Linked DNA regions of Homo sapiens: region 2 is linked to region 1. Evidence: fine-mapped expression QTL. Tissue or cell type: lung. Region 1 holds a variant in brackets; the other region holds the start of a gene. All regions are shown on one strand. Distances are from middle to middle.

Region 1 (8,000 bases):
AGAACTGCCTGCTAGTTCTAGGAAACAAATTGAACCCCACCAATGCCCCACACTGCTCTTCACCGACAGAGGACAAAGGAGTAGAAATCAAAGTGGAGCTGTTGCTCTTGTTTCAGGAGCTGGAGCTGGGAATCTGGGGAGGCAAAATAAACTCCAGAGGATCTATAAAGGGTTCTGCTCCAGTCTTGAGCTGAGTACTGGTCAGTGCATAGGTGTGAGGACACCATTTGAGGCTGGGAAAAGAAATATCCAAAGGAAATAGAAGTAATTCCGACAGCTCACACACGACCAGGAATAGTTCATGTTCTTATTGGCCAGAGTGAAAACCTTGTGATTTACAAGGTATCGGTAGAGTACTCAAAATAGCACTGCCTCAGAGGTAGGAAAAAATTAGCCCACAACCAACGGCTGCTCTAATCTCATCTAACAAGGCTAAAAGTAGCCTCAAAAGGGTAAAAATGGGTCCTATTTAATTCAAGCCCTACTAATATGCCTGTAAAACTGAAACAGGAATTTCAAAAACTAACCTGTAGTTTCACTAAGGAATATAAGAGCTAGGTACCTTTTTTTTTTTTAATTTGTACAAGCTTAAGATGGTAGAATTTTTGGTGTAAAGACAGTTTTAAAAAGTGTATTACTGAGGGAATTTGCCTGGAGAAAAACAGAGGCAAATGGAAGGACTAGGGCTGTCTCGGATTCATGTATATTAAAGGACCGTCCCTCCCTATCAATTATCCTCTGTTTATTTCTGTCACTTGTGATCAGTTGGAGTCAATCTATCTCTGTGAGTCTGTACATCTCTGGATATGTTAATATCCAGTTTCCCTAATTCTGTATTCATTTATCCAACCAATGTATATTGGTATGTATCAGGTATGATTATAGAAACTAGAGATACAGCAGTAAACAAAACAGAGTTTCTACATTCATGGAGCTACGTCATTCTAGTAGATTATGGTAAATCAACTGAGGTATTACCTTTATAGTTCCTACCAAATGCTTGTATCCATTAAAAACATGCAATAGTCAAGGGTAAAATAAGCTATTTTAGAACCAATGAGTTCCCTTTCAAAGGACCTATTTAAGCATAAAAGACCTATTAAGCATAAAGAATATCTAACAGAGTGGAAAAGTTGGATAAGCTCACCATAAAGAGCCCTTCAGATTCGGAATTGTCTGATTAAATTAGAGAATCCTAAGAACTGAATAACAAAGCAAGCATTAATAGTCTCTGCTATAACAGAATTATATAAATAATATGAAAACAGAGAAACACAAAAATGTATAATATATAGTAACATTTTTCAATGTACTTACCTTCTAAATTGTTGATATGTCTTGAATCTGTGCTCCATGATTTCTCCCAGTAATTTAATAAACTTTTTTAAAGTCCTCACTTTACTATCCAGATCAAGATAGGTCTCTCTTGCTTCTTGGTACTGCCTATTATATAAACAAAATATTACGTAAAAAATACACCACACGTAAAAAACATAACAGTAGAATCTCAAACAGATTTAACTGGGAAGAACAGGGAGGGGCAGAGAGTACTAAGGGGGCCTAGTAGCAGTCAATTTCATAAATTTCCAGGCAAATTACACTCCCAGAATGAAAGGGTGGTACGGAATAAGAAAGTGCTATCCTGACAGGGAAGGAACAAGGTCCAAGCCCTAGAGGAGGCAGAGACAGTGTGTGAACAAATGCCCTGGTACGGCCTAGAGGTGGCAGATCTTAGAGAATACTAGCAAATACACACCTTCAAAAAGGGAAGGGGTCACACTGGAAGAAAGGTTTCCTTCAGTGACAGATGCCAATAAAAGAAAAAAAGAACTCAAGCCAGCATTAGAATCCACCCTCCCCTGTCCTAAACAAGATAAGATCAAAGAGGCAGAGATGGCATGGCTACTCAGAGTGCTATTACAAAAGGCAACAGCCTATTACTGTGGCAAGCCTATAACTGAATTAGCATGAAAGGCAACCCTGGTCGAGGCTCCCACAGCTACCCTTCCCATTCTCCTTCAAATAACTGGCCCAGGAAAATTCAACTAATTAAAAAAATAAGTAACAAAAAACGCGCTGGCACAGCATCCAGATATTTATGGGGAAAATATGAAAAAGAACAGCAAAACTCTCCTACAGACAAAGAAAACTTATTAGAACAGTGTTGCCACAAAGCAGATGAAAATTATAATTGAACACCATAAATTAAAACAAAACAAGAGGCCAGTTGTATTGGCTCACACCTATAATCCCAGCACTTTGGGAGGCCAAGATGAGAGGATCGTTTGAGTCCAGGAATTAGAGACCAGCTTGGACAATATAGCAAGATTCTGTTTCTACAAATAATAAAATAAAAATTAGCCAGGTATGGTGGCATGTGCCTGTGGTCCCAGCTACTCAGGAGGGTGAGGCACAGGATCACTTGAACCCAGAAGTTCAAGGCTGCAGTGAGCCATGATTGTACCACTGCACTCCAGCCTGGGTGACAGAGCAAGAGCCTGTCTTAAAGAATAAAAACAAACAAACAAACAAACACGAACATTAGACAAGTGCTACCAGGAAGGAATACCTCAAAGCAGACATAAAAGAACTGAAAGAATAGATACACAAAAGAAGGTAATAATCAAACAAGAGGAGTAGGTAAAGCAAGAGAACCCACAGACGGGAAGGTAGGAGGGCTAGAACCTCCTCCTAAAAAGAACACACACAGATATGAAGACAAAATGAGAAGATGCATAGGAGAAAAGAGAAATGTGGAAAACACATAGATGGAAATAAAGAACATAAATGAGAAAATCAAGCAAAATGAAAAAAAAAGACAAAATGGTTAGACAAAATGATAACTAGAGAAGATATAGATATTCAACATAACTAAAGACCTCAAAAAAAAACCAAAACAATGAAACAAAATATTTTAAAGTAAAATTCAACAAATTTTTTAAGAACTAAAAGACTTAAATCTAAATATTGAAAAAGCAATGTTTAGCAATGAAAAAAATCACTGAATTCTAACATTCTGGATAAGTTACAGGACATAATAGACAAACACCAACATAAACAAGATGCTCATCAGGAGAAAAAGTATGAGCTAAGGATTTTATATTAGGTGAAACTATCCTTCAAACATAAAAGCTAAAGACAAATTCTTATCAACTTGTAAAACATAGAAAATATTCATACACACCATTCTCAAGCAAAAAAGAACAAACAACTTTTCAAATGGCTGCATAGTCATGTGGAAAAAGACAAAATCTATTCCTCACACCATACATAAAAATAAACTCCAAATAAATCACAGATATACAAAAATGGACATATAGAAGTACTAAAAAATCATAGGTAATTAGAACATGTGGAAAAAGGAATAAGAAAAAAAAATCATAGGTGAATACCTCCATAACCTAGATGTAGAGAAAAGCATTTTAACTATGACCCAAAATCCAGATGTAATCAAAGAATGACAAATTGAACTAAATAAAAATAATCTTTTCATGGCAAAAAATATAAATGCAAATTCAACAAAGAAATCAAGAGAAAAATCTGCAATATTTGGCTAATACTCCATATATATCTATATATATATATGTTAAAAACTTAAACTTTGAGGGGAAAAACACCATAGAAAAATAATTTTAAAAAAGAATAGATAATTCACAAGGTATAAAAATGATTCTTAAATATATGAAAAAATGTTGAGTTTTATTCATAATGATGGAATGTAATTAAAGTTACATTAATATACAATTTCTCAGCCATCAGACAG[G/A]CACAAATTACAAAGCGTAACTATACACTATACACTTTGTTGGCAAAGTTGGGGAAAAAGTATCCTTTCTCATACAGGTTGAGCATTCCTAATCCAAAAATTTGAAATTTGGCCAGGTACGGTATCTCACTTTGCTGCCTATAATCCCAGCACTTTGGGAGGCAAAGGCAGGAGGATCACTTGAGGTCAAGAGTTCGAGACCACCCTGGCCAACATGGTAAAACCCTGTCTCTACTAAAAATACAAAAATTAGCTGGGCATGGTGGCAGGTGCTGGTAATCCCAGCTTCTTGGGAGGGTGAGGCAGGAGAATTGCTTGAATCCAGGAGGCAGAGGTTGCAGTGAGCCAAGATTGTGCCGCAGCTCTCCAGCATGGGCAACAGAGTGAGACTCCGTCCCAAAAAGCAAGGCAAAAATCTGAAATTCAAAATACTTCAAAATCTGAAACATTTCGAGCATTGATATGATGCCAAAAGTGAAAAATTCCACACCTGACCTCATGGGACAGGTTGCAGTAAAAACGCAGGTACACAATGCAGTTTATTTATTCAGTGCCCCCAAGGGAAAAGAGACCTTCCTAGCCCCCTTCAGCTGTGATGTATCTTTTCTGTACATGTATGACATACATACATGGATATGTATGTTACATTTTTTACTAAGTACTTATGTGTGAATTAGTGTAAGAAAACGATTGCTTATATAAATTCAGAATCAGGAATGACAGTGATGTCAAACAACCACAGATTGTTTACATGGATGGCTAAGATAGTAACGTCTTCACTTTCTGATGATTCAATGTATACAAACTTTGTTCCGTGAACAAAATTATTTAAAAATTGCATAAAATTACCTTCAGGCTATGTGTATAAGGTGTATATAAAACATAAATGAATTTTTGTGTTTAGATTTGGGTCCTATCTCCAAGATATCTCATCTATATGCCAATATTCCAAAATCCAAAATACTTCTGGTTCTAGGCATTTTGGATAAGGAATACTCAACCTGTACAATGTTGGCGCAAATGCAAAAATGATACACACCCTATAGAGAAGGTTTGAAAATATCTAACAAAACCACTTACACATTTATGCTTCAAACTAGTAAAGTCACTTCTGGAAAATTACTATGAAGATACAGATTCGAGCACTTATATGATGCCACAAGTGTATCCAATAGCACACATATACATGTGTGCGTGCATGTGCAAGATAATTCACTGCAGCATTATCTGTAACTGCAAAATACTGGAAATAACCAAAATGCACACACACAGAATGACTGAATAAACTATGGTACAGATCAATGTGTGTGTGCAGACTCACAAAACAGAGTACAATGAAGCTGTAAAAAGAATGAGGAAGATCTCAATGAACTGATATGGAGTGATCTTCAGGTACATTGGTGAATGACAAAAGCAAGATGGTTGACTACCTTTTGTGAAAAAAAGTAGAGGAACCATGGAAAAAAGAAAACACATATGAACCTGCTTACTTTCACAAACAAATAAAAAACATGAAAGATAGAAAATAAAAAAGAACTGTTGCCTATAGGGAGTGGGCCAGGGGAAATGGTGTGGAAGGGATGAAAGAGGGAGAACATTTCCCTGAATATACTTTTGTTTATGGCTTTGACTTGTGAAACCATGTTAATTTCTACATATTCCCCTCAAAGAGAAATTAAATAAACAAGGATCAGAGAAAAATTGAATGTAAACAAAAACAAATAAAAGCATTTCTAAATCAAGTCAATTAATAACTACAACAATAAAGAAAAACCTAATCCAAATAACTTTAGAACAGAGTAAATTTACTAAATAGTAGAGAAAAAATAATTGCAAACACATCTTGAATGTTTTTCAATAATTTTCTTTCTGTAGATATATATTGTGGAACTGAGTAAATATTAACGTTGTTGAGAGCCAGAATTCCTCCTGTGGAGGAAAAAAAGACAGAAACAAGGAATAGGTTAAGGTTAAAAAGCCCTTTGTGGGACTGGACTGCCACTGGAGACACCAATACAAACTCACGTTTTTAATTCTGTTAACTGAAAGGTACTGGAAGAAATGCTACCCCAGCAACAATTAGCATCCCTAAAATCCAAATTTTGTTTTTAGGTATCATTCCTTAAAAAAAGGAACCAGGGCTCTTTGGAGAAGTTACTGACTCCAAGGCTGGGTCAGGTATAGAATGAGCTTGAAATATTTTGTTATGTCACAAAGTTTAAAAATGCTATTAAAAAAAAAAAAAAAACAAGAAGGAAAGCATGTTAAGAAAATGCAGGAACCAGCTTGAAGAGCCTCCATTTGACCAAAGATGGAACAATTTAAATCTTAAAATAGGCCATGCAGTGGCTCATGCCTGTAATCCCAGCACTTTGGGAGGCTGAGGTGGGAGGATCACTTGAGCCCGGGAGGGAGAGGTTGCAGTGAGCCGAGATCCTGCCACTGAACTCCAGCCTGGACAACAGAGCGAGACCCTGTCTCAGAAAAAGAAAATCTTAAGATAAACATGGACCGTAAATGACTATAGTCCATTGAGTAAAACAGAAATCTGTGGAAACTGAATGCAAATAGAAACATTTCCAAATCAAGTCAATTAATAACTGTAACAGTAGAGAGAAAAACCTAATCCAAGTAACTTTACAACACAGTAAATTTACTAAATACCAGAAAAAAAATAATTGTAAACATATCTTGCAGAGGGGATTTGGCAATAATTGCAAAGTCCATATTGCAAAGGCAAGTAAATAAATTAACAAATAGATAAATTGGAGATAACATAGGCTCTTCCTTACAAGTGACTGATAAATATGAAGGATGCAACAGAATTGAAAACTCCTCATTTTGCAAGCAGTATAGTAAAGATTCGTTCAGGTAAGAATCATTAGCAGAGGATAAATCTAGGGATGAAAATATGATGAAAAGCAGGATACTGGCAGGGTTGCAAAGTGTCTGTCTGCAGAATGTTTATTAGTTGCAAGGGAAAAAATAGTAAAGCATATAATGGAAAAACCAATTAACACCTTTACTGGGTGATCAAAATTAACATCATCAGTAAGAGAGAGAGAGAGAAATAGATAGACAGATTATGTGCCTCTGGATGTGATACCCAGAAAACGATACATCATCATTTCTGTAGCATCCTGGCCAAGAACACATATGAACCTAATTATAAGAAAAAATATCGTATAAAATCAAAACAAAGAGCATTCTGTAAAAGAGCATGACAAATGAAATACACGACCCTAGACTGCATCTGATATCGTAGGAAAGACGTGGAGAACCGTCAACATTGGAACTGGACTACAGGTATCAATGTTAAGTTTCCTGTACTTTATAACAGTATTGTGGTTATGTAAGATAATACTCTTATTCTTAGGGAATATATTGAAGTACTAAGAGGTAAAGGGTCATGATTTATGAAACCTACTTTTGAATGGTACAGAAAAAAAAGTAAAGTAATGTGAGTGTATGTATATGTGTGCATGTATACATGCTAAATATATATGGCCTTTCAATAATGTTTGAAGTTTTATGATTTTTGATAGAGCTGTCCCTCAGTATCTGCAAAGGAACTAGATCCAGGGCCCCCTGGGCAGATACCAAAATCCATGAATCCCTTTTATAAATGTCATAGTATTTGCATATAACCTATATACATCTTCCTGTATACTTTAAATCATCTCTAGAGATTACTTATAATACCTAAGACAATGTAAATGCTATGTAAATAGTTGTTACACTGTATTCTGTATTTTTTAAAAAATTTGTATTAGTTTTTACTATTGTGTTCTTTTTTTGTTGTTTTTGAGTTTTTTCCCCCAGTCTTTTCAATCTGTGGTTGGTTGAACCTGTGGATATGGAATCAGTGGATACAGAGAGCCAGCTGTATTTACAATAATGGATGCATGTCTATGGCAATTGGATCTAGGCAATTTCTCTATTCAATACATTATTAATTCCAAATGGGAAAATCCACTAGGATTAAAATTTCGTTTGAGCTCCAGTTGCTTCTTAAATCATTACTGCAATTATTTTACTTTATAACTAATAGAGAAATGTAATATGTGAGTGACTAGCAGACCATGGAATTAAAATTGATTTTGCACAGAAAAATAAATAGCTTTTGCTCAGGTTACTAAATTCACTGAATAAATTAACAATGAAAATCAGAAAGAACATCATAAAGCCACAATAACTAAAACAGTATGGTTTTTAAACAACTGCCTGTGGCCAGGTG
Region 2 (8,146 bases), 67 kb after region 1:
TAATTATGCTGGAATAAAAAAAGGAGAAAAAAGCCTCCTCTGGGATTTTCAATTTATCCATAAAGCTCGTCATAGTTTTTAATATTTCTTTACTTATTTATAATTTAAAAAAAACAGAATTAAAGAACACCTCATTTCTCCCTTACAGGATACAAGCAGGAACAATGAAGATTATCAATAAAATAATAAGTTCAAGAAGAAAAATTAATGGCCGGGCGCGGTGGTTCACGCCTGTAATCCCAGCACTTTGGGAGGCCAAGGCAGGCGGATCACGAGGTCAGGAGTTTGAGACCAGACTGGCCAATATGGTGAAACCCCGTCTCTACTAAAAATACAAAAATTAGTCAGGCGTGGTGGCGCGCGCCTATAGTCCCAGCTACTCAGGAGGCTGAGGCAGAAGAATGGCTTAAACCCAGGAGGCGGAGGTTGCAGTGAGCCGAGACTGTGCCACTGCACTCCAGCCTGGGTGACAGAGCGATACTCCGTCTCAAAAAGAAAAAAAAAATTAATAACCAAGAGTTCATTATTGCATGTAGATGCATAGGAAATTTGATAGAGATCATGCATTTTAACAGAATTCTAAATTTTATTAAGTATATAATAATTCATATTTCCTATTAATACCAAATTAGGAACTAAGAGTAGTGACACACATAACAGAATTAGAATTTAATAAAAAAGTGTTATCATTTTTTTAAAAAGGCAAATTACTACTACTTCTGAATCTGCCCTGGCCTGTGTTTACCACATCCTCAATTCTACTCTGCCTATCACAACAGACATTTATTCTATGGTAAACAACTTCATTTTGAATGTGCTTAATTAAGTACACTGCTTGGAATATATCACGAAATTATATGAGACTTATTCATTAAGTCCACCCATCTAAAATTTCAGGATCAGCAAAACCGGGAAGTATAAAGCACAGCATTTCAGTTAATAAAATCTGAACACTTAGATTTCTGTACTGAAAACATCCTGTGGCTCAATATAGAAGATAGATGAAACAGAAAGTAAGAATAGTAGCAGAAGAGATGAGTTGCTAAACAAAAGCAGTGGTAATATCAGGGACAAAGGGAAGAGATAAAACAAGAGATTTAAAAGACTGAATTAGTAGAATTGGTGAGTACAAATGGGTGAGTAGAATTAACATCTGCTGAATAACTACATACTTAGCTTTTGAGATGAACACTTTCTATTTCCTTTGATCCCCAACATCTTTATGAGATAAATATTGCCCTTATTTTTACAAAAGGAGAGACTGAGGCACAAGTAAATGACTTGAATTTATGTAGCTACAACTTAGTTCTAACATACAAAGGCTTCTATAGCTCTAACATAGCAGAGCTCAGATCCAAATCCAGGTTTGTCAAAACCCAGTTAAACCTCTTTAACGCCCAGGTTCCTACTGGCATAAACTGAAGTTTGACAGTTAATTATTCATAGAGAGTGAAATTGGCTATTAATCTGTCCTTCATCTCGTCTATCCTTCATTAAACTTAAAAAAAAGATTCTATTATTGGCTGGGCGGGTGGCTCATGCCTGCAATCTCAGTACTTTGGAAGGCCAAGGCAGGCGGATCACCTGAGGTCAGGAGTTCGAGACCAGCCTGGCCAACATGGTGAAACCCCATCTCTACTAAAAATACAAAAAAAAATTAGCTGGGCTTGGTGGCGCATGCCTGTAATCCCAGCTACTCAGGAGGTTGAGGCAGGAGAATCACTTGAACCTGAGAGGCAGAGGTTGCAGTGAGCCGAAATCATGTCACTGCCCTCCAGCCTGGACAACAAGAGTGAACAGCTGTCTCAAAAAAAAAAAAAAAAAAAAAAAAGATTCTCTAATGTTACTATTAAAGTCAATCAAAACTTTGGGTGTGCTTTATAAAACTTCATTTTGTGTTTCATCTTCACACTTAATACTAAATGCCATTATAAGTTCATGGAACAGGTTTGGCAAGTAGGGAGAATGAAATTTATTTTATTTGAAAACACTGAGTTTGGGCTGGGCTCAGTAGCTCACGCCTTGTCATCCCAGCACTTTGGGAGGCCGAGATGGATGGATCACTTGAGGTAAGGCGCTCAAGACCAGCCAGCCCAACGTGGTGAAACCCCATCTCTACTAAAAATACAAAATTAGCCAAGTGTGGTGGTGCATGCCTGTAATCCCAGCTACTCCGGAGGCTGAGGCAGGAGAATCGCTTGAACCCGGGAGGCAGGATTGCACCACTGCACTCCAACCTCGGCGACAAGAGTAAAACTCTGTCTCAAACAAAAAAAAAAAAAAAAGAGGAAAAAAAAGAAAGAAAGAAAACACTGAGTTTCAAGTGCTCCTAAGGTATTTTGAGATAGAGGCCAGTCAGTAGTAAAGGATACTCTGCAATGGAGAAAGATTTGTGGGTGGAGCTAAGGAAGCTACTGGAAGTAGTTTGAATTTGGTGACCAAGAAAAGCATGCTCAGAGAGAAAAGATGTTAACTTGTTTAAATAGTGAATCAAAAATGCTAACATTAACCTAAGCAACTACGCTTGACCCTCAGTCAGCTGGACTTATCGTTGTGTATAAAGAACTATGGCATTTAATTGTGTCTTAAATATAATGCAAGCTATCACGGTAAAATTTTGAGTTACTTACTAATTCCTAAAAGTAAGCCAAGTACAGCTTTAATTATTTTTCCTAACTTTGGTCTAAAAATGACAGTCAAGATTTAGGTAGGTTTTACATAAAATTCTACAGATTCAGTAAAATACACTCAGTAAAATAAACCTTTGGGGAATAAAACTTGTTTTTCACTGTAATACCTTTAACATGACTTGTGTACTTTTTGCCAGGCTCAATACTAACTGGTTTATACGGATTGCAGACAGATGTCGATATATAACTACATAACTTTCTCTTCCTCTCTGTGTCCACATATTTAAGAATCCTGTCAGCTAGGTACAGTCAATCCCTAAGAATTGGTTCCAAAATGACAGCCCCTCTCTCTCACTCAGATACCAAAATCCACAGATGCTCAAGTCCCTTATATGAAATGGTGTCATATTTGCATATAACCTCCCCACATACTTAAAAGTTATCTCTAGATTACTTATATAACCTAACACAATGCAAATGCTATGTGAATAGTTGTTATACTGTACTGTTTAGGGAATAATGACAAGAACAAAAAAAAGTCTGTGCAACCATCCACTTTTTTTCCTCTGAAATATTTTCAGTCCCTTGATTGAGTCCACGGATACAGAGGATGCACTGATAACTGTATTATTTCTTCCAACTTGCATAAGAAGAACTGAAACTTAAAGAGGTGGTACCAACCTGCTCAGAGTCACACAATTCTGGCTTTTTGTGATATAAATACACGCTTTTAGGCAATATACTAGTGGCCTCCAAACGTTTTGTACTTGCACCCATTAAGCAAAAGAAATTTGAAATACATGTTCCAACATAAAATTAATACCCTATGTTTCACGTAGAAATCAAATGAAATAAATCTAAATAGAAGTTCTAATATGTTCCCTCTCTACCCACACACCCATGGAACAAACTGCATGCCACTGTATATACTATTGTACATGTTAAAAGATCACACTGCAACCATATAAAAGTCAGGAGATTTGGGTTTTTCTTTTTTCCTTTGAATATATATTACTGAGAAGTTTGCCTTTAAAACACTGGCTTTTAATCTACTACTCGTGACATATGCAGAGTAATAAGCGCTCACAAAACTTCTGTCTTGAGGGCTCAAACACCAAATGATTGCTCTAAGAATTTTCACAGTATTACCTCAAACCCTATTGGTTCTACAACCTTTCTCTACCCTAGAGTCCTGTTTTCCGCAATTCCCAATTGGGATTCTTCTCCGGTTCATTTCTGTAAGAAATGAGGGCAGAGAAATGCCATCAGTAAACCTTTGAACACATGTTAATTTTTCTAGGTAATACAATTTGCATTTTCGTAAAACTGGGCTTTAATGACAAATCCGATTTCAGTGATCTTTGCATACACCCTTTAAACACACCAGTTGCCGCCTGCGAGATATCATCAGACTCATGCTAAGAGCCACTCCCTACCCCAGCTTTCCCCAGACCTCTCCCCGCTTTACAGTTATTCGCCACAGCCCGGGAGAGTCTGGGGACGGCCGCCTGGGAGGGGACGGCCGCCTGGGAGGGGACGGCCCGGAGCAGACGCCAGGTTTCCCGCGGCTCAGGAGACCGGTGCCGCCTCGGAGAGCGCGCGAAGGTGCCGCCGGCCGCCCGACCCGCCCGAGGAACGGACATCTCCCGCCCGGGCCCGCAAGGACGACCATGAACACCGCCGCAGCTCAGCTGACCCTGCCTCTCCCGGGTGGCTGGGGGTCGCCAGCCAAGGGGGCAGCGGGCGGAGGATGAACCCCGGAGCAAGGGAAAGCGACAGCGCGCGCCTTCACCCTACCGCCAACAAGTCGAAGTCTCCCAAAGGAACCTGATCGGCGGGGCTGCCGTGGTACGACCGGCCGCTAAGGCCACCCTGCGGGCGTCTCGACCTCGGCTGACCGCCGCTGGCCCCCTGGGAACCGCGTGCCGGCCGCAGGAGAAGGTAGATTCCCGGGAGCCCCGGCGCCCACCGCGGTACTAACCGCGCCTGCGCCCCGCCCTCCCTCCCTTCGGGCTCCGCCCGCGCCTGCGCAGTTGCGGGGTTTCGCGCCGCCGGAGTCTGAGAGGCCGGAAGTGCCCCTTAGCGGGTGGGGGAAGCTGGTAGGCACGGGCGGCTCCGCAGTGACCGGACTCGGGGGAGGTGAGTGATTTGCCTAAGTAAAAGGGAAAGATAATTGAGCGCCCCCGGCAGCTGGTCTACGCATGCGTCCGCTAGGCCGGCTGGGAGCCGGCAAGGGAAAGCCGAGCGGGCCCCATTGGGGGAAAGGGGTCAGTCACTTCCCGGAAGAGGCGGGGCCGCGCGGGCCCGGCGCTGGATTCGAAACGCTTCCTGGTGCTCCTGGGCCTGGCGGTTGAGCCCGGGGAGCTAGTCTTTGCTTGGGTAAAGAAAGAGGACTTTCCTTTTTTTTTTTCCTTTTGAGAAAATTCAGAAATTTGGAGGCACAGTAGTTAGGATTCAGGCCAAACTGGTAAATGACGAAGGGGCTTCTTCCAGAGCCAAGGAGGAAGGGTTGTCCGGGTAAGTCCCGCGGGACGTGGAGAGACGGCGCCGCCCGGGTCCTCCCACTGATTCCTTTGACCATCTGGCTTACGGACGAGCTCTTTGTTCGCTGCTCCTCCGAAAACGCCTTCAATGACTCCCTTTGAATAAAGTAGGAAGTCCGAACCGAGCCGCCAGGCCGCGACTTGGCCCCTGTTTTCCACTCGCGAGGGCCCTGCGTCACCCCGCCTCGGGAAAGCTGCGCGTTCTCCGGCCGCTTGCGCTTGGCCGAAGCTGCTGGGTCCCGCTGTGCTTCCCCCGGGCATGCGATGGGGATAATTCCCACGCCTCGCTCAAAGCCATCCCGGGAGAGCCCTCCCTGGTCCCCATAGGCACAGTTGGGTGTTCCCTTTTCCGTGTTAACCTTGTATTTCGGATATAGTTCTGTTATAGTAATTACTTTAAGGTATTGTAGTTATTTACAATCAGTCTTTCCCCCACGGTAACCTAGAGTGTAAACCCCCTAAATAAACGTCAGAAGTAATGAAGTCTTAACTTCCTTGGCTTAGGTTTCAGCGCCCTTCTCAACCCCACACTCCCGCTTCAGTCTTTACACAACCCTTCCCATGAATATGCTGACCTAACAAGTAACCTACTTTTCATACTCCAAAATCTTCTCTTCTGTGTGGGGAAAATAATGCATTGACTGCCACCTCACTCCACCTCCAAATAAATTGATGTTGAAATTCTGGCCTCCGGTAATGGAATTCTTTACATCAAAGTCACTTTTTATTTCTAAAAGTAATCACATATATATTATATTCCTACTGTGGCCCTTGCCATGGATCAACGAAAAATATGACATAGTCAAAATAGACCAAAACATCTGGCCTTGTTGTAACCAATGGGAAACACGGTTGGGAGGTCCCTACTTACATGTCACTTGCTTCAGGAACCGTTCCTTGATTCCTAAGTGGGGGACCTTTTTTCCTAAATACAACTATAGCTTGCTTTCTTACCTCTTAAGCCCTTTTTATCTGCAGTCTCACTTACCCTACTAAGGTCTTTAAATGCAGGGCTTGATCTTCCATTATTGTATCTCCAGCACCTATAAAGCTTTCCTGTTAAATAGTAGACATTTAATAAGTATTTATTGATAAACGTGAAGTATGCCTCAACGTTTAGGCTAAATTCATATGAAAATAAAATTGAAAAAATAATTTTAAAGAACAGCATTAGTTACTGAGATTATGTGGTAAATCCCTTAAAATATAATCTTGCATTGAAATAGTTTTCACCATTTACCAGTCTTTATATGAATATATACTCATCTAAATGGAAATTGGGAAATTTAAGCATTTTCTGCTTTTCCGAAGTAAATTTTCTAATGTTTTTCTTAAAGCTGAACTAAATTGCAAAACTTGCTTTAATAAAGTGTGTATTTTTGCATCAGTTAAGCCCCTGACCTCTTTATGTTCTTTAAATTTGATTCATTAGTGAAATTAACAAGGTTCTGTGTTTTTCTCACCTCATTCAGTTTTATAATTAACCAATAAAAGCTTATTAGCTTTTAAGGAAGTTTTAGGAACTTAAATTGATTTATGGGCACCATATGGTTACATCAAAGGACTTGTTTTTGTTTTAACTGGAAGTGGATTCTTAAGTCCTTTAAGATGGAAATTTATGTTCTTTCTATTATACCAAGCAATACTTTCTGAAATAGAGTGATTTTTTTTTATTCCATGCTACCAGTTGGTCATGCAATTCAAATATTAAATACTAGATTACAGATATTAGAATCTTGTAATGCATCTGGTTTAATACCTGTCATTTTGTAGAACGGTTAAATGTCTTCCCAAGGTCATACACCTAATCAGTGGTATATTCAAAACCCAAATCCTAGGCTTCCTATCTGAAGTCCATTGCTTATGAAGTGGTTTGCTATGTGTTCTGACTTTGTTGATTCAAATAAGTAAGCTAAATCAATTTAAGCCATTAATAGGTTTATAAAGTTATTTGCTATGTGTTGTTCTTACATCATTGATTCATGTAAGTAGACTTGTGTGACAGCTAATTCTTAAAAAATTATGAAGATGTTAGACTTCTTTTGATATATATATGTTGATTGTATGAACAGATTGACATCAATATACTTATTCATTATAAAAGATTTGAGTGGGAACTCACCAAATCCCACACCAAAAAAATTTAAAATTTTACCATAGTAAAAAAAACTAAAAAGCAAGATGAAATTATACATAGTTCTTGGTGTAGTATTTTTAATTTTTATTATTTATTTTTATAGAAATGGGGTCTCACCATTTTGCCAGGCTGTTCTCAAACTCCTGGCCTCAGGTGATCCGCCTGCCTCGACCTCCCAAAGAGCCAGGATTATAGGCATGAGCTACCATGCCCGGCTAGTGTAGTATTTTTAAATTTTACTTAATGCTGAGCCATTTTCAAATAACCTCATCACATTGATTATGACCTCATGCAAGAACCATCTGTTCTATCTTTCAGTGTAGTTGTACTTTAATATCTTAGAAGCTATTGCATTCTGTCCTTTTTTGGAATGTTTTATGCTTTTACAGTCTTAACCATTGCTTCTTAATATCACTTCCGCGGAACAGCTGGTGCAAAGAACATGTGATAAGGAATGGAAAACAATTGATGATGGAAACAGAGATTTGGAGTTAATTGCGTTCTTAAAATATTATGATGTTCTTTCTAATAAAATGTACATTTCACATAATTTTCCTCTTTCAGAACTAACCATGGTTAATCATTCTTTAAACCAGGTTTGTTTCCGACAAAAGAAATGAAATAATAAAAACTAAATTCTAACTGTAGTAATCATGTGATATTAAAGATATTATTTATGGGGTTAAAAGCCCTCTTTATCTTGCTTAGGGGTTTCCAATAATCGAATCAGTGCTGGACTTTTTTTTTTTTTTTTTAGGCATGGCTGCCCCCTGTTAATAATATATTTAATTAACAGCTTTACACAATGATCTTAATATACTTGAAATACTTAGAGG

Evidence for each region. PIP is the estimated chance that this variant, and not a neighbour inherited with it, causes the effect.
Region 2: it holds the start of GEN1, and the variant in region 1 is fine-mapped to the expression of GEN1 in lung (TOPMed, PIP above 0.99).

Annotation. Positions count from the first base shown.
Region 1 is chr2:17,682,321-17,690,320 of GRCh38, forward strand. It overlaps SMC6 (structural maintenance of chromosomes 6), which reads right to left. Exons shown (of 28, transcript NM_001142286.2): 24 at 1,318-1,443. Among named protein-coding and RNA genes, the nearest start is that of SMC6, 67 kb to the right of the region's middle. The variant G/A (reference allele first, on the strand shown) is at 3,764.
Region 2 is chr2:17,749,199-17,757,344 of GRCh38, forward strand. GEN1 (GEN1 Holliday junction 5' flap endonuclease) reads left to right here and starts at 4,940. Exons shown (of 14, transcript NM_001130009.3): 1 at 4,940-5,147. It overlaps SMC6 (structural maintenance of chromosomes 6), which reads right to left and starts at 4,612. Exons shown (of 28, transcript NM_001142286.2): 1 at 4,428-4,612; 2 at 3,780-3,866. RefSeq lists silencers at 4,088-4,447, 4,588-4,727.